Linked DNA regions of Homo sapiens: all the other regions are linked to region 2. The links come from fine-mapping of genetic effects on gene expression. A gene starts in region 2. Each other region holds a variant in brackets. All regions are shown on one strand. Distances are between the middles of the regions. Region 1 overlaps SPTBN4 (spectrin beta, non-erythrocytic 4). Region 2 holds the start of PLD3 (phospholipase D family member 3). Region 3 overlaps PLD3 (phospholipase D family member 3).

Region 1 (6,386 bases), 150 kb before region 2:
CTGTTCACCTTCCTGTCTGTGTCTCCTGTTCACCTTTCTTTCTTCCTTCCTTCCTTCCTTCCTTCCTTCCTTCCTTCCTTCCTTCCTTCCTTCCTCCCTTTCATTCTTTTTTCTTCTTCTTTTTTTGAGACAGAGTCTGCCTCTGTCACCCAGGCTGGAGTGCAGTGGCGCGATCTCAGCTCACTGCAAACTCCACCTCCCAGGTTCAAGTGATTCTCCTGCCTCCCGATTAGATGTACTTCGCCCGGCTAATTTTTGTATTTTTTAGTAGAGATGGGGTTTCGCCATGTTGGCCAGGCTGGTCTTGAACTCCTGACCTCAGATGATCTGCCTGCCTCAGCCTCCCAAAGTGCTGGGATTACAGGTGTGAGCCACCGTGCCCGGCTTCTTCTTTTTTTTTTTTTTTTTTTTTTGAGACAGGGTCTCACTCTGTCATCCAGGTTGAAGTGTAGTGGTGCAATCATGGCTCACACAGCCTCAACCTCCTGGGCTCAAGCGATCCTCCCACTTCAGAGTAGCTGGGACTACAAGCGCACACCACCACGCCTAGCTAATTTTTTTTTTTTTTTTTTTTGTACAGACAGGATCTCACTATGTTGATCAGGCTGGTCTCAAACTCTGGGGCTCAAGCAATCTGCCTACCTCGGCCTCCCAAAGTGCTGGTACCGCAGGTGAGAGCCACCATGCCCAGCTGGCTTCTATCTTTCTTGTCTCATCTCTCTCTAGATCTGGTAGGTCTCTCTCTCTCTCTCTTAAATTGATTCCATCTTCCTGTATCTTTCTCTGTAGTCATGTAGATTTCCATGTCACCTTTGTGTCTGCCTTCTCCTCTCTCTGTCTCTCTGATTTCCTCTCTCTCAAACTGTCACTATCTCTCTGTCTGCATCCCTGGTTTACTCTGTTTCTATATCTCTATGTCTTTTTTCATTTCTCTCTTTTTTTTTGAAACAGAATCAAACTCTGTCACTCAGGCTGGATGGAGTGCAGTGGCACCACCTTGGCTTACTGCAGCCTCTGCCTCCTGGATTCAAGCAATTCTTGAGCCTCAGCCTCCCAAATAGCTAGGACTACAGGCACACGCCACCACGCCCAGCTAATTGTTTTTTGTTTTTTTTGTTTTTTTTTTTGAGACGGAGTCTCGCTCTGTCGCCCAGGCTGGAGTGCAGTGGCGGGATCTCGGCTCCCTGCAAGCTCCGCCTCCCGGGTTCACGCCATTCTCCTGCCTCAGCCTCCCAAGTAGCTGGGACTACAGGCGCCCGCCACTACGCCCGGCTAATTGTTTTGTATTTTTAGTAGAGATGGGGTTTCACCATGTTGGCCAGGCTGGTCTGAAACTGCTGACCTCAAGTGATCTGCCCTCCTTGGCCTCCCAAAGTGCTGGTATTACAGGTGTGAGCCACCGTGTCCAGCATGTTTCTATTTCTCTCTATTTGTCTCTGTCTCTTTCTCATTCTGTGTTTCTTTGTCTGCCTCTCTTGTCCATCTCTGTATCTTTCTCTCCCTCTCTCTCTTGTTCTCTCTTTTTGTCTCCCTGGCTTTCTCTCTATCTTCTTCTATCTCTGCCCTTCCCTCTCCATCTCCAGCTGTCTGACAACTCTTTCAGCGTCTGCATCCTCCCCTCCCTCCTGGCACTCCACCCGCATCCCCGCCCCCCCGCCGGCACCTGCATCTCCTCCATCCAGTCCACCATGTACACCATCTCCTGGAAGACCTTCTGCAGGGCAAGGTTCTGCTCAAGTCGTGTCCGCCGGGCACCCACAAGCCCAGTTAGCAGGGCCCACTGGCGCAGGACGCTGTCACGCTGGGCTGCCACCCGCCGGATATCGTAGTAGCCTTCGGCTGCCAATGCCTGGGCCAGCTCCGCCACACCCTGCACCCGCTCCTCGTAGGCCGCAATGTCTGCCTCGATCGCTTCGTGTTTCTTCATGGCTGCCTCCACTGCGGGCAGCTCATACCCAAAGTTGTCCTGGGGCAGTGAGCCAGACACTCACCCATGCTGCCTCAGCAGTCCACCTGTTACCTTGACCCTGTGTGACCCTGGGGACTCCCCACTCCATTACCTTGGAGACTGGCCCTGCCCTCCCTAGTTATCCTGGAGACCAGCCTCATCCTCCCCTGTTACCCAGGTAACCTGGAGACCAGCCCCACCCTCCATTGTTACCTTGGAGACCAGCCCCACCCTCCCCAGTTACCCTAAAGACCAACCCCCCATCCCCTGTTGCCCTGGAGACCAGCCCATCTTCCACAGTTATCCTGGAGACCAGCTCCACCCTCCCCTGTTGTCCTGGAGACCAGCCCAATCTTCCCCAGTTACCCTGGAGACCAGACCCACCCTCCCCTGTTGCCCTAGAGACCAACCCCACCTTCCCGTTTCCCCAGAGACCAGCCCCACTCTCTCCAGTTACCCTGGAAACAAGTCCCACCCTCCTGTTACATCTCTAACCTTAAACTTGTTAC[C/T]CAGGAAGGAGGCCCATGCTTCCCCTGTCCTGGAGATTAGGGACCAGGTTTACCTGACTCTGTTACTTAGGAAACCAATTCTATCCTTCTGAGTTACCCTAGACACAAGATACAACCTCCCTTGTCACTTAAAACACTCCCCCATTCCTGAAAAGATGAATTCTGCCCTCTCTAGTTACCCTGGAGACCAGCCTCACTCTCCCATTACCCTGGAGATCAGGCCCATTCCCCTCACCCAACAATCACTTGGAAGGCCAAGTCTCCCATCCCCATCCTCATTTATCACCAGGAGACTAATCTAACTCTTCCCTGTTGCCTAGAAGATCAAGTCTCCCTCTCTGGTCCCAGGACCATCAGCCCCGCCCTCCGTCCCTTTACCCTGGAGCCAAGCCCTACACCTTGTACCTGGGAGACCAGACGCTGGTTCTCATTCAGCCAGCTCTCCCTCATAGCCACCTTGTGGTCAAACCTCTGTGCCAGTAGTTCCAGCTTCTCCTGCCGAATCAGCTCAGCCCGTAGGGCAGCCTCCCGCTCATGCTCAGCCTTCTCCAGCTCACCCCATGCCTGCAGGAGATGGGAGGAGGCACTCAGACTCTGACAGCTCCCCACAGTTTAATGGTCTTGACTTAGTCTGAGGTCACTCATAGCATTATGGCAACTTCATGCAAATTGGAAAAAATATTGCTTCCTTATGACACTTTACTACTGAAAAACTGTCAGAATGAATATCTAATCCATCATGTCTACAATGTGAATGATTCCCTTGAGCAGTGTGCAACCTATACAACTCCACAGTGCAACCCCGCCTCTCCCCTGCATCCCCGGCCTCACCTTGTCAATATCCCAGATGCCACAGCCCTCCCGAGGCACAAAGAGGCGACGGTTGCAGGCACGCAGTTTGCTCTGGATGCTGAAGAGCAGCACCTCTAGGTTCCCCTTCTCCTGGAACCTGAAGGGGCATGAGCTCAGGAGCCCTGCCGTCATGCCACCCCTGCCCACCCTCCCTCCAGAGCTGGGCCTCACTTGACAGGCTTCTCCAGCGTGCAATAGGCCGTGAAAGCCTGGAGTTGCTGCTGCACCCCACTTAAGGAGTTGGCAAATTTCTGATTGCTGATGAGGCCCACGGTGCGGTGGATCCAGGCCAGCAGCTCAGCCGCCAGCTCCTCGTAGCGTTCTATGATCTTCCCCACCTCCAATACCTGGTCCAAGACCTGACACAGCAGAGGAAGGGGGGTCAGCCTCATCCCACCCGTGCCTGCCACCAGCTTCCAGCTTCCCACTCACCCACTCCTTGGCTCCTTATACCTTCCCGATACGCTTCCCCTCCACAGCCAGAGCCTTCATCTTGGAGAAATAGTGGTAGAAAGAGACCACGTAGGTGATGATGGACTTCTCATCTGGAGCCTCCATGTTCACATCTGGAAGCAAGAGGGAGTGGGGAAACAAGACAGTGGGCACTTTGACAGAGTGCTTGAAGGTATTGGATGGAGGGATGGAGAAGCCACTCTCACTAGCTGTGTGACCTTGGGCAAGATAATTAACCTCTCTGTTCCTCAGGTTTTGTATCCGTCAAATAGAAATCTACCTCCTGGAATTAAATAGTGCCTGACACATATAAACCACCGCAGAGAAATAAGCTATACTTTTCTTTTTCTTTTCTTTTTTTTTTTAAGATGGAATTTTGCTCTTGTTGCCCAGGCTGGAGTGCAATGGCACGATCTCAACTCACTGCAACCTCTACCTCCCAGGTTCAAGTGATTCTTCTGTCTCAGCCTCCCAAGTAGCTGGGGTTATGGGCATGCACCACCATGCCTGGCTAATTTTATATTTTCAGTAGAGACAGGGCTTCACCATGTTGGTCAGGCTGGTCTCGAACTGCTGACCTCAGGTGATCCGCCCACCTCGGCCTCCCAAAGTGCTGGGATTACAGATGTGAGCCACCGCACCTGGCCTATATTTGTTTCTTGAACACACCTTTCTACCTTCCACCTCAGGGCCTTTGCATGTGCTGTTCTCACTGTCTGGAGCACTGTTCCTCTTCTGTGTTCCTAATTCCCACTTATTCTTCAGAGCTCAACTTTTTACTTTTTTTTTTTTCAAGAGATGGAGTCTGGCTCTCTTGTCCAGGCTGATTGTGCAGTGGTGCAATCATAGCTCACTGCAGCCTCGAGCTCCTAGGTTCAAGCAATCCTCCCACCTCAGCCTCCTGAGTAGTCAGAACTAAAGGTGTGAACCACCATGCCTGGCTCAACTCAAATTTCCTTAGACAAGCCTCCATGTTCACTCTGTCTATAGTTGATAATCCTCATGTTATTCTCCTCTTAGCATCTTATGATGTCCTTCCCAGAATGTATCACAATTTGTAATTACATATTCACTTATGTGATTATGTCATTATCTAGAGCTTGAGCTTCATGAGGACAAACACTATGCCTGTTTCCTTTCTTTTCCTTTCCTTTCCTTTCCTTTCTTTTCTTTTTCTTTCTTTTTTTTTGAGACAGTCTCAAGCTATTGCCCAGGCTGGAGTGCAATGGCGTGATCTTGGCCCACCACAACCTCTGCCTCCCAGGTTCAAGCAATTCTCATGCCTCAGCCTCCCAAGTAGCTGAGATTACAGGCACACACCACCACGCCCGGCTAATTTTTTGTAATTTTTTAAATAGACTTTTTATTTTTTATAAAACATAGACAGGGTCTCTCTGTGTTGCCCAGGCTAGTCTTGAACTCTTGGGCTGAAACAATACTCCTGCCTCAGCTTCCCATAGTGCTGGGACTATAGGCGTGGGCCACTATAGGCGTGGGCCCAGCCGTATGCCTATCTTCTTTATCACTGTTCTGTCTTACCCAGCACACAGTAGGTGCTAAATTAAAATTTAGTTAGCTTGCAAATTGTGCACAAGGCTTGATGTCAAGAACATAGGCTTTGGAGGCAGCATGCACTTGGATCCCAGTTCAACACTTACTCACTGCATGTCCTTAGAAAATAACCTAGCTTCTCTAAGCCTCAGTTTCCCCATTGTTATAATAAAGATTATCATGGTTCCTGCCTCCTGGGAACAATGTAAGTATTAGAAAGACTAGCCTGGCACAGAGGGGAAACTCAACAAATTCTAACATCACTTTAATTGGTTGTTGTTTTTTGCTTTTTGAGTTGGGATCTGGGGTGCAGTGTTGTAATCAGAGCTCACTGCAGCCTCGAACTCCTGGGCTCAAGTGATCCTCCTGCCTTGGCCTCCTGTGTAGCTGGGACTACAGGTTTGTAGATATGGGATTTCACTACATTGCCCAGGCTGGTCCTGAACTTCTGGCCTCAAGCGATCCTCCTGCCTTAACCTCCCAAAGTGCTGGGATTACAGGCACAAGCCATCACCATGACTGAGTGATATCATTTTAATTTACCCACTGGATGCACAACAGTATACCTGGCCTTTATTCTTCACTGCCTTGTCCAACTGACATCCATTAGCACCTACTACGTACCAGGCACTGAGCACAGGATACAGCTATAAGAGGCAGGGTAGAGGACTGATTAAGACCATGAATTCTGGAGCCATAAGGTCTGGTTTCCTGATTTTCAGTGTGATGCTGGGCAAGTGACAACATCCCTGAGCTGTCATTCTCATCACTTTGGAAGACAGGTTAAGCCAGGCATGTGGCTCGGGCCTGTAATCCCAGGCACTCTGGGAGGCCAAGGTGGGAGGATCGCTTGAGTCCAGTAGTTTGAGACCAGCCTGGGCAACATAGCGAGACCCCACCTCTACCAAAAAAAAAAAAATCAAAAATTAGCTGAGCATGGTCGTGCACGCCTATAGCCCCAGCTACTCTGGGGGCTGAGGTGAGAGGATTGCTTGAGCACAGGAGGTTGAAGCTGTAGTGAGCCAAGATTGTGCCACTGCACTCCAGCCTGGGCAACACAGTGAGACCCCATT
Region 2 (7,956 bases):
ACTAATTCATGAACAAAACAATGCAAAATCTCCCTTCATCACATCAGGCGAGGGACCCTGCAGCTTGAGGGAGGCGTGAGCCTGCAAAAGTGCAGGGTGTGGAGTGAGACAATGGGGCTTCTTGCATTCATTTTTGATTTTTTTTGAGACAGGGTCTCCTCGCTTTGTTGCCCAGGCTGGAATGCAGTGGTGGGAACACATCTCACTGCAGCCTGGAACTCCTGGGCTCAAGTGATCCTCTCGCCTCAGCCTCCTGAGTAGCTGGAACCACAGGTGTGTGCCACCATGCCCAGCTAGTTTTTTATTTTTTTGTAGAGTTGGGATCTCACCACATTGCCCAGGCTGCTATTGAACTGCTGGGCTCAAGTGATCTGCCTACCTCAACCTCTCAAAGTGCTGGGATTACAGGCATAAGCCACTGTGCCTGGCCTCAAAGCACTTAATATATTTGTTTTATTTTTTTAAATTGGACTTAATATATTTAATTTTCACAACAGTCCTCTTAAAAATCCCACTTAGGGAATTAAGGATCCAGAGAGGTGAAGTCACAGGTATAAAGAGAAATAGGATATGTGGTAAGCCTGGAACTGGACTTTGGTTAAAAAAAAAGAGAGAGGAAATGGAGCAAGGATTTGAACCCAAGCTGCCTCAAGCTTCCAGGGACAGATGCCACATGACAGCTGCCTCTCCTGTTGTTCATCATCTGTAGATCCCCTGCTGCCTGCCCCCCACCGTCTGGGACAGCAGCTGAACCCCGTGGTGGCGCCGGCCTCTCAAAAATTCCGTTAGCATTTCCCTAGCCTGCCCTCAAATTTTATGACTATTTATTTATTTATCTGAGATGGAGTCTTGCTCTGTTGCCCAGGCTGGAGTGAAGTGGTGTGATCTCGGCTCACTGCAACCTCTGCCTCCCGGGTTCAAGCGATTTTCCTGCCTCAGCCTCCTGAGTAGCTGGGATTACAGGCACAAGCCACAACGCCCAGCTAATTTTATATAATTTTGGTAGAGATGAGGTTTCACCATGTTGGTCAGGGTGGTTTCGAACTCCTGACCTCAAGTGATCCGCCCGCCTCAGCCTCCCAAAGTGCTGGGATTATAGGCGTGAACCACCACGCCCGGTCTCGATCTTTGACAGGGATATTTGAAACTTTCTCCCAACATAAAGGATATGTGAGTGCGGACTGAAGAAGATTCTGGCTCTCTTTCCAATAAGGCTGCCTCTCACTAGTCGATCCTGGGTAGAAGTTCTGGAGCTGCCACAGCTCAGGGTGATGGCTTCATGTCACACTGGACCGCATCCCTCCTCGGCTCCACATCCTCCTGTGGCACCCACCTCACTGGGAGTAAAAGCCAGCCTTCTGCATGGCTCACAAGGCCTTCCACGATGTGCCCCATCACCCCTCCAATGTCGTCTCTTGCCCCTCTCCTCTCTCACTGACCTCCTTGCTATTCCTTAAATATTCCAAGCTTGCTCCTACCGCAAGACTTTTGCTTTTGCTGTTCTCTTTGCCCAGCATGCTGTTCCCCCAGAGGGCCATGTCACTCTTTCTTTCTCTCTCTCTTTTTTTGAGACAGAATCTCGCTGTCGCCCAGGCTGGAGTGCAATGGCGCAATCTCAGTTCACTGCAACCTCCGCCTCCCTGGTTCAAGCGATTCTCCTGCCTCAGCCTCCTGAATAGCTGGGATTACAGGTGTCTGCCACTATGCCTGCCTAATTTTTTGTAATTTTAGTAGAGACGAGGTTTCACCATGTTAGTCAGGCTGGTCTCGAACTCCTGACCTCAGGTGATCTGCCAGCCTTGGCCTCCCAAAGTGCTGGGATTATAGGCATGAGCCACTACGCCTGGCCGTTTTTTTGTTTTGTTTTGTTTTTTTGTTTTGAGACAGGGTCTCCGTCTGTTGCCCAGGCTGGAGTGTATTGGCAAAATCATGGCTCACTGCAGCCTCGAACTCCCAGGCTCAAGCGATCCCCCCACCTCTCAGCCTCCCAAGTAGCTGGGACCACAGGCGCACACCACCATACCTGGCTAATTTTTGTAGAGATGGGGTTTCGCTATGTTGCCCAGGCTGATCTCAAACTCCTGAGCTCCAGCGATCCACCTTCCTCAGCCTCCCAAAGTGCTGTGATCACAGGCGTGAGCCACCGTGCCCAGCCCTACTCTCTCTTCTCCTTCAAGTATTTGTTTCAAATGTCACCTTCTCAGAAAGCTTTCCCTGACCACCCTATTTAAAACTATAACCTTGACCCCACATTCCCCATGCCCCTTCTAATACATCCAATAATCTACTTACCTATTTACCCATTGCCTCTTACCCCCACTAGAGTGTAGTACACAGTCCATAAGGCCAGATTTTTTTTTTTTTTTTGAGATGGGGTCTCACTCTGTCACCCAGGCTGGAGTGCAGTGGTGCGATCTCAACTCACTGCAGCCTCCGCCTCCTGGGTTCAAGCAATCCTCTCACCTCAGCCTCCCGAGTTGCTCAGATTTTAGGGGCGCGCCACCATGCCTGGCTAATTTTTGCATTTTTAGTAGAGATGGGGCTTCACCATGTTGTCCAGGCTGGTCTCAAACTCCTGGTCTCAGGTGATCCACCCACTTCACCTCCCAAAGTGCTTGGATTACAGGTGTGAGCCATTGCGCCAGGCCGAGATATTTTTGTCTGTATTGTTCATTGAGGTATCCCCAGTGTCTAGCAGTGTTGGGCACATATATAGTACATGCTTAAGAATTATGTGCAGAATGATTAATTTGTGTTTTCATTCCCATATTGCAGATGCAGTAACTGAGGCGCTGGGAGGTTAAGTTAGTTGCCCAAGATCATGCAGTTTTTTTTTTTTTTTTTTTTTTTGAGACGGAGTCTCGCTCTTGTTGCCCAGGCTACAGTGCAATGGCACGATCTAGGCTCACTGCAACCTCCGCCTCTCAGATTCGAACGATTCTCCTGTCTCAGCCTCCCGAGTAGCTGGGATTACAGGCATGTGCCACCATGCCTGGCTAATTTTGTATTTTTAATAGAGATGGGGTTTCTCCATGTTGGTCAGGCTGGTCTCGAACTTCCGACCTGAGGTGATCCGCCCGCCTCGGCCTCCCAAAGTGCTGGGATTACAGGCGTGAGCCACCGCGCCTGGCCTATTATTATTATTTTTTTTTGAGACGGAGTCTCGCTCTTGTTGCCCAGGCTGGAGTGCAATGGCGCGATCTCGGCTCACTGCAACCTCCACCTCCCCGGTTCAAGCCATTCTCCTGCCTCAGCCTCCCGAGTAGCTGGGATTATAGGCATGCACCACCACGCCCGGCTAATTTTGTATTTTTAGTAGAGACGGGGTTTCTCCATGTTGATCAGGCTGGTCTCGAACTCCCGACATCAGGTGATCCGCCCACCTTGGCCTCCTAAAGTGCTGGGATTACAGGCATGAGCCACCGCACCCGGCCGAGGGTGACATGGTTAATAACAATATTAGCCAAAAACACCATGTCAAGCTGAGCCTACCACAAGAATAAACTCACAGAATCGTCACACTCAGCCCTGATGTGGATGTCCCCGTGTGCATTTTGCAGATGAAGCTGGGATTGGAAAGGTGCCATAAGGCAGTCAAGGTATCCAGAGGTGTAGTGGTGGGGCTGGGATTCTGACACACCCCAGGTAATGGGCTGCAGTACCCCGTATGTTATGTGAGATGTGACACGGGGAAATGACGAAGACACGGAGGGAAGAAAAATAACTGTAAGGCTGGGTGGCTCCTTATGGGGAAAACTGGAAGCATGAGGAGTGGATGGTGACTGGTCAGAGGAACAGTGATGCCAAGGGAGGGACAAAGACACAAGGGGTAATGATGACGTAAGAGTTGCATTAGCGCGATTTAAGAAGAGCGATGGGGACAGTAGCCATGCGAAGGTGACTTGGGGGTATGATGAGGGTTTAAAGAGAAATGAGGATTTTATAAAGGAGAAATGGCAACAAAAGCAGGATGCAGGTAACATATGGCGATGACGAATTTAAAGGGAGCGATTACGACCTATGGTGGCAAAGAGGGCTTACAGGGAACGAAAGCGAGTTAAGGGCGTTGATGACAACAAGAGGAGTTGTGAGGATTTAAAGAGGGTGATGGCGACAGAAGGAGTTGTGAGGATTTAAGTGGGATGAGACAGAAGGAGAGGAATGGTGACATAAAGAGACCGAGGACGACATAAATTATAGCGTGGAAGACAACGCTATAATTATATATATTATATTCCATATATTATATTCCATATAATATATATTATATTCCATGCATTATAGCGTGGAAGACAACACGAGGAGGGTAGCCGAGGCGCCGCGCCCCCAGATCGCACAGTACCTGCACTCCACGTCTCCCACTCCGAGACCCAGCCCCACACGCACCTTCCAGGCTGTATCCCCGCCTGACGGCCCCTCCTAGCCGCGCGCAGGCGCACTACGGCTAGACTGCAGGCCGGCGGGGGCCAGGCATGCGCCTTTCTCATTGGCCGCGCCGCTTGCTAGCTTCGGGCGGAGGGGAGCGCCGGGCCGACGGTGGGCGGTCACGTGACGGTTACGACTGCACTCTCGCTGGTGTCGGTGGGCGGTCACGTGATGGTTATGGCCGCACTCTCGCTGGTGGCGGCCTGTTGGGGTAGAGCGGCCGCGGACGAGTCAGTTCAGCTTCCGGCGGTGAGAGGATGCTTCCGGGGCGGGCAGCCCGGGCCGGGGGAGGAGTGTCTGACAGTTGGCGCCGCCGGGAGGGAGGGCGGGCGGCGCGAGTGGGCGCGGGCCCGGTGGGCCAGGTGAGGCGCGGGCCGGGGGTGGTGGGACTGGGCCGGTTGCGGTAGGGACGGGTGGCGTCCGGGTGTCTGGACTCAGTTCGGGCTCCGTTGTACGGCTTCGGACTTACGATTTGTTTCTTTGAGCCTCAGTTTCCTCCCCTGTGGAATGGGGGTTAGAATCCGACTGTATCACCGGCTTTATAAATGGGAGTGAGAAGTCAGGTCGTGTACGTTGGATGCCTTAGCTCAGCGCCTCCGCATAACGCTCACTTCGTTACTATACTATTATTATTAGTATTGATGTTTGAGCGCTTAGTATGAAAAATTGTTGGGTTTGGAAGCCGTCGAATTTTGGTTCAAGTCCCGCTCCACTGTGCGGCAGTGGGGCCTGTGTCTTCGCTTCCTTGAACCCCGTTTTTTCTCATCTGTACAATGAGAGCAGATAGTCCCAATATCATAGGGTCGTCTTGAGGATTCTGATGAAATCTGTGTGTGTAAAGATTTTAAGCAGAGGGGCTGGCACAGTGAGAGCTCGTGGATTGGGACTATAATGATAATGATTCTGAGAGTCATTGGTGTAGCTGGGAATTCCAGGGAAGCTGGGGGAGAAAGCTCAGAGACAGCAATAGGAAAAACTTAGAATTGGAGCCGGGGAAATCGACATCCTGTCACTTACTATTTGACCAATTTTGCTGAGTCCTGAAGTACTAGTTTTTTTCTTTTTCTTGATAATGACTAGTGCATTTTTTTCCCCAGTAAGTTAATTTGAGAAGGCAAATTTGCATTGCTGTCTTCTTCTTTTTTTTTTCTTTGAGACGGAGTTTCGCTCTTGTTGCCCAGGCTGGAGTGCAATGGTGCAATTTCGTCTCACCGCAACCTCCGCTTCCTGGGTTCAAGGGATTCTCCTGCCTCAACCTTCCGAGTAGCTGGGATTACAGGCATGCGCCACCACGCCCGGCTAATTTTTTTTGTATTTTAGTAGAGACGGGGTTTCTGCATGTTGGTCAGGCTGGTCTCGAACTTCTGACTTCAGGTGATCTGCCCGCCTCTGCCTCCCAAAGTGCTGGGATTACAGGTGTGAGCCACCGTGCCCGGCGCATTGCTGTCTTCAATGGAAAACTAGCATTGCTGGCCATGAGAGGAAGGAAAAGTTCAGGTAAAATACAATGGAAACTGAACAGCCCATTACATTGTACACTGAAATGGAAAGATAATTGAAAAGGAATACTACGTATTCCCTTTGAATAGGGATACTGTTCAGAACCTGTACTGTGTGATTCCCTGTTGTCAGATCCCATGGACCCCCATTAAGTTGTCCTTATACTTGTTCCCAGCTCACACTTTGTATAAAACTAGCATTAAGTCAGTGACTGTCCCACTGTTTCCCTAGCTTACTGAAGATTTGTTTTATTTGATGCACACTTAACATCGCACTTAACCACCTGCCGTGCATCTTTGTTCTAAGGACTCTGTTTATTAACTCGTTTAATCCTTGTAACACCTTTAAGAATGGGTCCTTGGCTGGGCGTGGTGGCTCACGCCTGTAATCCTAGCACTTTGGGAGGCCGAGACGGGCGGATCACGAGGTCAGGAGATAGAGACCATCCTGGCTAACACGGTGAAACCCCGTCTCTACTAAAACTACAGAAAATTAGCCGGGCATGGTGGTGGGGGCCTGTAATCCCAGCTACTTGGGAGGCTGAGGCAGGATAATTGCTTGAACCTGGGAGGCAGAGGTTGCAGTGAGACGAGATCACGCCACTGCACTCCAGCCTGGGCGACAGAGTGGGACTTCATCTCAAAAAAAAAAAAGGGTCCTCTTTTTTTTTTTTTAAGATGGTGTTTTTTTATTTTTATTATTTATTTATTTATTTATTTATTTATTTATTTATTTATTTATTTGAGACAAGGTCTCGCTCTGTTGCCCAGGCTGGAGTGCAGTGGTGCGATCTTGGATCACTGCAACCTCTGCCTCCCGGGCTTAAGCAATTCTCCTGCCTCAGCCTCCTGAGTAGCTAGGATTACAGGTGCCCACCACCACGCCTGGCTAATTTTTGTATTTTTAGTAGAGAGGGGTTTCACTATGTTGGCCAGGCTGGTCTTGAATTCCTGACCTCAGGTTATCCACCTGCCTCAGCCTCCCAAGGTGCTGGCCAAGAATTGGTAATCTTACTTTTTTTTTTTTTTTTGAGATGGAGTCTCACTCTGTTGCCCAGGCTGGAGTGTAGTGGTACAGTTTCGGCTCACTGCAACCTCTGCCTCCTGGGTTCAAGTGATTCTCCTGCCTCAGCCTCCCGAGTAGCTGGGATTACAGGTGCCTGCCACCATGCCCAGCTAATTTTTTGTATTTTTAGTAGAGGCGGAGTTTCGCCATGTTGGCCAGGCTGGTCTCAAACTCCTGACCTTGTGATCCACTGCCTTGGCCTCCCAAAGCGTTGGGATTACAGGCATGAGCCACTGCGCCCAGCCACCTTTCCTTTTTTTTTTTTTTTTTTTGAGACTGAGTCTTGCTCTGTTGCCCAGGCTGGAGTGAAGTGGCGTAATCTTGGCTCACTGCAACCTCTCCCCCCCCCGCCCCGGGTTGAAGCGATTCTCCCACCTTAGCCTACTGAGTAGCTTGGATTACAGGCATACACCACCATGCCTGGCTAATTTTTGTATTTTTAGTAGAGATGGGGTTTCACCATATTGGCCAGGCTGGTCTCGAACTCCTGACCTCAGGTGATCCACCCGCCTCAGCCTCCCAAAGTGCTGTGATTACAGGCGTGAGCCACCACGCCCAGTTTTTTTTTTTTTTTTTTTTTTTTTAACAGTGACAGGGTCTCGCTATATTGCCCAGGCTGGCCTCAAAATCCTGGGCTCCAGAGATCCTCCTGCTTCGGCCTCCCAAAGTGCTGGGACTACAGGTGTGAGTTACTGTACCCGGCCTTACCATTCTTATTGTGCAGTTGAGGGAAGTGAGGTCAGAAAGGTTAAGCTACTTGTCCAGAGTCAGGATTAGGACGTGGTAAAATTGGGATTTGGATACAGGTCTTCTAAGGGCTTAGCACATGGAGTCTGGTATGTGGTAATCCCTTGAGTTTTGGGAGCTGCTGTCTTTAAAATCACTATTATAATTTTCACTATTCGGAAAGTCAGTGCTGGAGATGGGCTTTTAAGATTGTGGAGAGAGGAAATTGAATTCAGTAGG
Region 3 (7,956 bases), 30 kb before region 2:
GTATGGGCCTATTGTCCCAGATACATGGGAGGCTGAGGCAGGAGAATTCCTTGAGCCTGGGAGGTCCAGGCTACAGTGAACTATGATCATGCCACTACACTTGAGCCTGGGTGACAGAGCAAGACTCTGTTTCAAAAAGAAAAATCTATCAGACCAGAAGAATGGAGTGAAAAGAACAAAAAACAGAGGCTGGGTGTGGTGGCTTACGCCTGTAATCCCAGCACTTTGGGAGTCCGAGGTGGGTGGATCACGAGGTCAGGAGTTCAAGACCAGCCTGGCCAAGATGATGAAACCCAGTCTCTACTAAAAACACAAAAAATTAGCTGGGCGCAGTGGCAGACGCCTGTAATTCCAGCTACTCGGCGGGCTGAGGCAGGAGAATCGCTTGAACCCAGAGGGCGGAGGTTGCAGTGAGCCGAGATCCCACCACTGCACTCCAGCCTGGGCAACAGAGTGAGACTCCGTCTCAAAAAAAAAAAAAAAAAAAGAAAGAAAAGAAAAATATTTTTTTCTTTTTTTTTTAAGACGGAGTCTTGATCTGTTGCTCAGGCTGGAGTGCAGTGGTGCGGTCTCAGCTCACTGCAACCTCTGCCTCCCAGGTTCAAGAGATTCTCCTGCCTCAGCCTCCTGAGTAGCTGGGCTTACAGGCACCCACCATCACACCCGGCAATTTTTTTGTATTTTTACTAGAGACGGGGTTTTACCATGTTGGCCAGGCTGGTCTCAGACACCCGACCTCGTGATCCACCCACCTCGACCTCCCAAAGCAGTGAGATTACAGGCATGAGCCACCGCGCTCGGCCAAAAAAATATTTTTTTAATAATTGAAAAAAAAAATTTCTGGGCTAAACCTCAATGAGGACTGGAACTTGGGGGTCAGCCTAGGGCATTTTCACAGCAAGAAAGAGCTGCATGAGATCAAATGTGGGACTGGTCAGCAACTGCAGCAAGATAGATCTGGGGGAGAAACTGCAGGGAGAATTAGATGTTTGGAAGTCAGATGTGGGGGCTGCTCTAGCAAGAGAGATCTGGGTCATACTATAAGTGTGACAGGACGATTGGGGCAGCTTCTCTGCCAGCTTCAGCTCCGGGGTCAGCAACTTGTGTGGCAAGAGGGATTAGACCACAGAGAATATATGAGGTCTGAGATTGGCTATGAGAATTGCGAGAGAGGCCAGGTGCAGTGGCTTATGCCTGTAGTCCACGCACTTTGGTGGGGGCCAAGGCAGGAGGATCACTTGAAGTCATTGTGGGCGACATAGCAAGACCGTGTCTCTAGAAAAAATTTTTTTTAAAATTTAGCCAGGCATGGTGGCACACACCGGTAGTTCCAAGCTACTTGGGAGGCTGAGGTGGGAAGATCACTTGAACCCAGGAGTTGGCAGTTGCAGTGAGCTATGATTGCACCACTACACCCCAGTCTGGGCGACACAGCAAGACCCTGTTTAAAAAAAAGGATCTAAGGCCAGGCACAGTGGCTCACACCTGTAATCCCAGCACTTTGGGAGGCCGAGGTGGGTGGATCACCTGAGGTCAGGAGTTCGAGAACAGCCTGGCCAACATGGTGAAACCCCATCTCTACTAAAAATACAAAAATTAGCTGGGCATGGTGGTGGACACCTGTAATTCCAGCTGCTCAGGAGGCTGAGGCAGGAGAATCGCTTGAACCTGGGAGGTGGAGGTTGCAGTGAGCCGAGATTGTACCACTGCACTCCAGCCTGGGCAACAAGAGTGAAACTCTGTCTCACACACATACAAAAAAAAAAAAAAAAAAAAAAAAAAAAGGATCTGAGTGAGACCTCAGGTGAGTCTAGAGGTTTGGGGCAGCAGCCAGTCTGCTACCTCTGTGGCTTTGCCCCTCCCATCTGTGCAGCAAGAGCCTGGGTTAGACAGCAGAGGGGACTAGGAGTTTGAGGTCATAGGTCTTGATTTCACAGCAAGAAGGGTCTGGATGGGACCACAGGTGAGACTAAAAGTCAATGGCAGTTTAATAGCAGGGGGTGACAAACTACTATAGCAAGAAGGGTCTGGGTTTGACCACCAGGAGGCCTGGGATCAAGTGTGGAGCTGTGGCAGTAAGAGGGACCTGGATTTGATTCCAGGGAGGACTAGAGATTCCGGGCAGCCCTTCTGCTAGCTGCTGGTAGGGGCTGCACCCATGGTGCTGAAGGGGACTGGAGGTCTGGGGCAAGGGGTGGAACTTGGGCCAGTGATTTGGGTTCGATTAGAGGGGCTTGGGTGTGACGGATCCAGGGTGGCCCTCCTAGCAGCCAGAGAGCTCCAAGGCAGATCATGGGCAGACCTGGAAGTCGGGGCTACATGTGGGTGCCACAGCAGGAGTGCCCAGGGCCCTAGCCCTGCACAATGGTCAACCCTGCCCCCTTCTCCATGCCCCGCCAGGTGCGCCCATTGGAGCGCCGCAAGTATATGCTCAAGTCGTTGGACCAGATTGAGACAGTGAATGGTGGCAGTGTGGCCAGTCGGCTAACCTTCCCTGACCGGGAGGCGCTGGCGGAGCACGCCGACCTCAAGAGCATGGTGGAGCTGATCAAGCGCATGCTGACCTGGGAGTCACACGAACGCATCAGCCCCAGTGCTGCCCTGCGCCACCCCTTCGTGTCCATGCAGCAGCTGCGCAGTGCCCACGAGACCACCCACTACTACCAGCTCTCGCTGCGCAGCTACCGCCTCTCGCTGCAAGTGGAGGGGAAGCCCCCCACGCCCGTCGTGGCCGCAGAAGATGGGACCCCCTACTACTGTCTGGCTGAGGAGAAGGAGGCTGCGGGTATGGGCAGTGTGGCCGGCAGCAGCCCCTTCTTCCGAGAGGAGAAGGCACCAGGTATGCAAAGAGCCATCGACCAGCTGGATGACCTGAGTCTGCAGGAGGCTGGGCATGGGCTGTGGGGTGAGACCTGCACCAATGCGGTCTCCGACATGATGGTCCCCCTCAAGGCAGCCATCACTGGCCACCATGTGCCCGACTCGGGCCCTGAGCCCATCCTGGCCTTCTACAGCAGCCGCCTGGCAGGCCGCCACAAGGCCCGCAAGCCACCTGCGGGTTCCAAGTCCGACTCCAACTTCAGCAACCTCATTCGGCTGAGCCAGGTCTCGCCTGAGGATGACAGGCCCTGCCGGGGCAGCAGCTGGGAGGAAGGAGAGCATCTCGGGGCCTCTGCTGAGCCACTGGCCATCCTGCAGCGAGATGAGGATGGGCCCAACATTGACAACATGACCATGGAAGCTGAGGTGAGCCGGGTGCGTTCAGGATACGATTAGGGTGGGAGGAGGCTCAGCACACACTCACCCGTGCTCAGGATATGATTAGTGTGTGAGGAGGCTCAACACACACTCACCCATGTTCAGGATACAATTAGGGACTTAGGAGGCTCAGCACACACCTAATACCGTCAAGATATGATAAGGCTCAGCACTTACTCAGCTACTTCCAGGCTGTGACAAAAACTCAGGGCACAGTAATCTACTTATAAGAAGCTTGATAAAGAGCCTGGGCAACATAGTGAGATCCCGTCTGCACCAAAAAATTAGAAATATTAGCTGGTTTTGGTGGCATGCACCTGTAGTCCCAGCTACTCAGGAGGCTGAGGTGGGAGGATCACTTGAGCCAGGGAGGTCGAGGCTGCAGTGAGCTGTCATCACATCACTACAAAGGGGCAATAAAGGCCCAGCACTGGTAAGACCCTAGCACATGCTCACCCTCATCAGGAGGAGGTGACAGAGGCTCAGCAGACACTAATACACTAACACTGCTTGGCTGATGCCCCTCTCTCTTCCCCCACAGAGGCCAGACCCTGAGCTCTTCGACCCCAGCAGCTGTCCTGGAGAATGGCTGAGTGAGCCAGACTGCACCCTGGAGAGCGTCAGGGGCCCACGGGCTCAGGGGCTCCCACCCCGCCGCTCCCACCAGCATGGTCCACCCCGGGGGGCCACCAGCTTCCTCCAGCATGTCACCGGGCACCACTGATGGTGATTCCACCCCTGCCCATCACTGGGGGCTGCGCTAGCTGGGCTGGCATTCCCTCCCAACCTGAACTGCTCCTCAGAGCCATCTCCTGAACCCACAAATTATTCTTACAGAAAGATAGTTATCCAGAAATTCTCATTCCCCGTCTGCGGTGCGGTGCGTGCCTGCACACCTCTCCTAAACACAGCAGGGCTTTGGAGTCTGGCCCATGCTCCTTGGCCAGAAGGACAGCAGGAAAGGGGGCTGCACCCCGCTGGCCCTGCGCTCGCCCTTGGCCCTGCTGCCTCTGTCTATTTCAATATAGAACTGTTCAGCAGTCCTGCTTCAAGCCTGCTCTCACTGCCTGGGGCTTGGACTGGCCCTGGGGGGAATGGGGGCTCCAGGCTGGCACCCAGTGACTTGCTCTGCGATGCTGGGCCCAG[T/C]TGACCACTGGCTTAGGCGGGAGCCTGGGCTGCTGTCACACTAGGAGGGAAAAGCTGTGCTTGGTTGACTAACCCTTGTCCTAAATACGCTATGTGCTTGGCGTGTTGGGAATCCACCCTCAGAACATGCTGTGTTCAGTATGTGTTAATCAAGTTTGCCGGATGCTGGGGTCTCCTTGTCTGTTGACCTGTCCTTCCTACATGTTTACAGGGTTGGCATGCACTCACCCACATTTGGGACGTGCTGGGTGTAAATCCACTTGGCAGGCCTAAATTCACACTTGGTGCACACTCTGGTGCTCAGCCATGCTTGTTCACCCTTGGGATGTGGCAATGGTTTGGTCCCTGCTGATCAATCTGGGAACATGCTTCTCTGCAGCACATACCCATGCTGGCTACATGAGTGCTAAGTCCATGCCGGGCCACAGGGTGGCACGCTGCATGCTCAGCACAGGTCAGCCCATGTACACTACATGTTAAGGGCTCAGCACATGCCAACCCATGCCAGCACATGCTGAGGGCTCAGTACATGCTAACCCACACTGGTCACACACTGAGGGCTCAGCACATGCCAGTGACATGTTGAGGGCTCAGCACAAAAAGATGTCCCCACCAGAGGCCCATGCCAGCTGTCCCCTACCCCTGCACCCCATCTCACACCACTCAGTCAGGCACAGGCTGTACAGACAAGTTATTTACTTATTATAACCCTGGGCCCTTTTTGCCCTGGAAAGTGGGGGTGGGCCAGGGGGCCAGGCCCAGCATGCACCCCCATTTCTTTGGGGGCTGATCCCTCCCCCAGCTCTGCTGGGTCCCGGGGCCACAGCGTCAGGCCGGTGGGGGTGGAGGTAGAGGTGGGAGAGCAGGGGAGAGAGCCTGAGGAGCCACAATGGGGCAGACAGAAGCGGGGGCGCGGGGACAGGGACCGTGACCCAGAGCACCTGGGTCCGCGGGGGCCCAGCAGGCCTTGGCCTGCCCACTGGATCGGGCCTCAGAGCAGGCGGCAGGCGTTGCCCACGCTGTCAGCTGAGGTGTCAAGGTCATGGCTGTAAGGGGAGTCCCAGTCCCTCAGGAAAATGGCCTCCAGCTGGCTCCGCAGGCCGCCCCTCCCATTCTGCGTCACCAGCAGCGAGGTGCCCGCCGTCTCCGTGAAGTAGTTGCCAGACCAGTTGGAGGTTCCTAGAGAGGAATGGGTGGAGCATAAGGGCACCCTCGGGGGGCCGCCCCTGGTGTCTGAACCCCCTCTTCTTCAGCGCCCCGTGGTGCTCAAGACACTCACCGATGTAGGTGGCGCGTTCAGTCACCATGTACTTGTTGTGGTTGACACGGGCATATGGGATTCGAGCCTGGGCCTCATCCGCGGGGACCACAAAGAGTTTCTGAGTGGGAGGGGAGGATGGGAAGGAGTGTGAGAGGCAGGGGGAGTCGGAGGAGCCCCGGGATCAGGGAGCAGAGTGTGGAGCGAGATCTGTGGGACTCCACTGCTTCCCACAGAATCCTCGGGGGCCAGAACAGGGCCAGGTGGAGGGGCCCTCTGAGAACGAAAGCTGAAAGGGAGGCCCCGGTGGTCTCATTTGCAAAACACTGTTCCCGGCAGAATGGCTCCTGTTCATTCCTGAGGTCTCATCTCAGATGCCCCCATTTCCAGAACATCTTCCTTGGCCCTTCCCGCTAGGGCAGAGGCTTCCTCTGGGCATCCCCACCCCAGCCCTGACCCCTCTGCCTGTGCCCCCCGACCCTGGCCCTGACCCCTCTGCCTGGGCCTCCTCCATCCCAGCCCTGACCCCTCTGCCTGTGCCCCCCCATCCCAGCCCTGACCCCTCTGCCTGTACCTCCTCCATCCCAGCCCTGACCCCTCTGCCTGTGCCCCCAACCCCAGCCCCGACCCCTCTACCTGCCCACTCCCCCAGTCCTGGTCCCAAACCCTCTCTCTGTGCCCCCCACCCCAGCCCTCACCCCTCTGCCTGGGCCTCCTCCATCCTGGCCCCGACCCCTCTGCCTGTGCCCCCAACCCTGGCCCTAACCCCTCTCTCTGTGCCCTCCAACCCGGCCCCGACCCTTCTGCCTGTGCCTCCCCATCCCAGCCCTGACCCCTCTGCCTGTGCTCCCAATCCCAGCCCTGACCCCTCTACCTGCCCATGTCCCCATTCCTGGTCCCAACACCTCTCTCTGCACCCCCATCCCGGTCCCAACCCCTCTGCCTGTGCCCCCTCATCCCGGTCCTGGCCCCTCTCCCTGTGCCCCATGACCCTGGCCCTGACCCATGGTTTCCCCACAGTGACAGGGCTCACTCTGGGCTGCCCTTGTCATTGACAGACGAGTCCCATGAGGGCTGTGTCCCTAGGACTGCCCCACACAGGGGCCAAGGGGTGGCTTGGGGCAGTACTTACCACCTGGATGTCAGAGTGGGTATGGTTGTCACGCAGGGCAGCCAGAGAGAGCAGGAAGGCCCGCATGGATGGCTCCGAGTGTCCCCAGCAGCTGATGAGCAGGCGCACCTTGACGCCACGCTCGTAGGTGGCCCGCCGCAGCCCATCGTCAATGGCAGGCCAGAACCTGAGGACGGGTGTATAGGAGGTGGGGCAGGATGCAGAGGGCGGCTGTGTCCACAGGCTTTGCCCTCAGCTTTGGGGAACCAAGCCTGGGCCCTGCTTTAGCTATTGAGAGGACTTCCTCATCGCTGGCTCCCAGACCCTGTTCCTGTCTCCATAAATCCCACATCCCTATTTCCTCTTCCTGGCTGTGGCTCCCATTCCTGCTCCCCAAAACCCAGTGTTGTCATCCTCTTTTATTCTTTCTTTTTTTTTTTGAGGTGGAATTTCGCTCTTGTTGCCCACGCTGGAGTGCAATGGCACAATCTCGGCTCACTGCAACCTCTGCCTCCTGGGTTCAAGCGATTCTCCTGCCTCAGCCTCCCGGGTAGCTAGGATTACAGGCATGCGCTACCACGCCTGGCTAATTTTGTATTTTTAGTAGAGACGGGGTTTCTCCATGTTTGTCAGGCTGGTCTCGAACTCCCGACCTCAGGTGATCTGCCCGCCTTGGCCTCCCAAAGTGCTGGGATTACAGGCGTGAGCCACTGTGCCCGGTCCATCCTCTTTTTTTTCTTTTTGAGACAGGTTCTTGCTCTATCACCCAGGCTGGAGTGTAGTGGCACGACCATAGCTCAATGCAGCCTCCAACTCCTGGGCTCAAGTGATCCTCCTGCCTCAGTCTCCTGAGTAGCTGGGACTGCAGGTGAGTGCCACCGCACTGGGCTAATCTTCCAATTTTTCTATAGAGACGGGGTCTCATTATGTTGCCCAGGCTGGTCTCAAACTCCTAGGGATCCTTCCGCCTCGGCCTCCCAAAGTGTTGGGATTACAGGCGTGAGCCACCATGCCTGGACCCACTGTCTTATCTACTGCCCCTAGAATACCTTCTTTGAGCCCCACAAGTGCCATCATCCACCTGGATGTTGCAGTGGGTATGGTTGTTATCCTTCTTTTTTTTTTTCTTTTCTTTTTTTTTTTTTTGAGAAGGTGTCTCGCTCCGTCGCCCAGGCTGGAGTGC

The links. PIP is the estimated chance that this variant, and not a neighbour inherited with it, causes the effect. A credible set is the group of variants that fine-mapping cannot tell apart.
Region 1: its variant is the best candidate, but not a certain one, in a credible set for the expression of PLD3 in whole blood (INTERVAL, PIP 0.89).
Region 3: its variant is the best candidate, but not a certain one, in a credible set for the expression of PLD3 in sigmoid colon (GTEx, PIP 0.77).

Annotation. Positions count from the first base shown.
Region 1 is chr19:40,499,410-40,505,795 of GRCh38, reverse strand. It overlaps SPTBN4 (spectrin beta, non-erythrocytic 4), which reads right to left. Exons shown (of 36, transcript NM_020971.3): 8 at 3,763-3,875; 9 at 3,481-3,668; 10 at 3,289-3,406; 11 at 2,863-3,021; 12 at 1,664-1,966. Among named protein-coding and RNA genes, the nearest start is that of SPTBN4, 36 kb to the right of the region's middle. The variant C/T (reference allele first, on the strand shown) is at 2,458.
Region 2 is chr19:40,345,155-40,353,110 of GRCh38, reverse strand. It overlaps PLD3 (phospholipase D family member 3), which reads right to left and starts at 4,416. Exons shown (of 13, transcript NM_012268.4): 1 at 4,343-4,416. It overlaps C19orf47 (chromosome 19 open reading frame 47), which reads left to right and starts at 4,714. Exons shown (of 9, transcript NM_001256441.2): 1 at 4,714-4,787. RefSeq lists an enhancer at 4,470-4,759 and a silencer at 4,750-4,839.
Region 3 is chr19:40,375,613-40,383,568 of GRCh38, reverse strand. PLD3 (phospholipase D family member 3) reads right to left here. Exons shown (of 13, transcript NM_012268.4): 11 at 6,795-6,960; 12 at 5,684-5,783; 13 at 5,084-5,583. The coding sequence ends at 5,396. It overlaps HIPK4 (homeodomain interacting protein kinase 4), which reads left to right. Exons shown (of 4, transcript NM_144685.5): 3 at 2,401-3,246; 4 at 3,800-4,298. The coding sequence ends at 3,982. Among named protein-coding and RNA genes, the nearest start is that of MIR6796, 9.7 kb to the right of the region's middle. The variant T/C (reference allele first, on the strand shown) is at 4,405.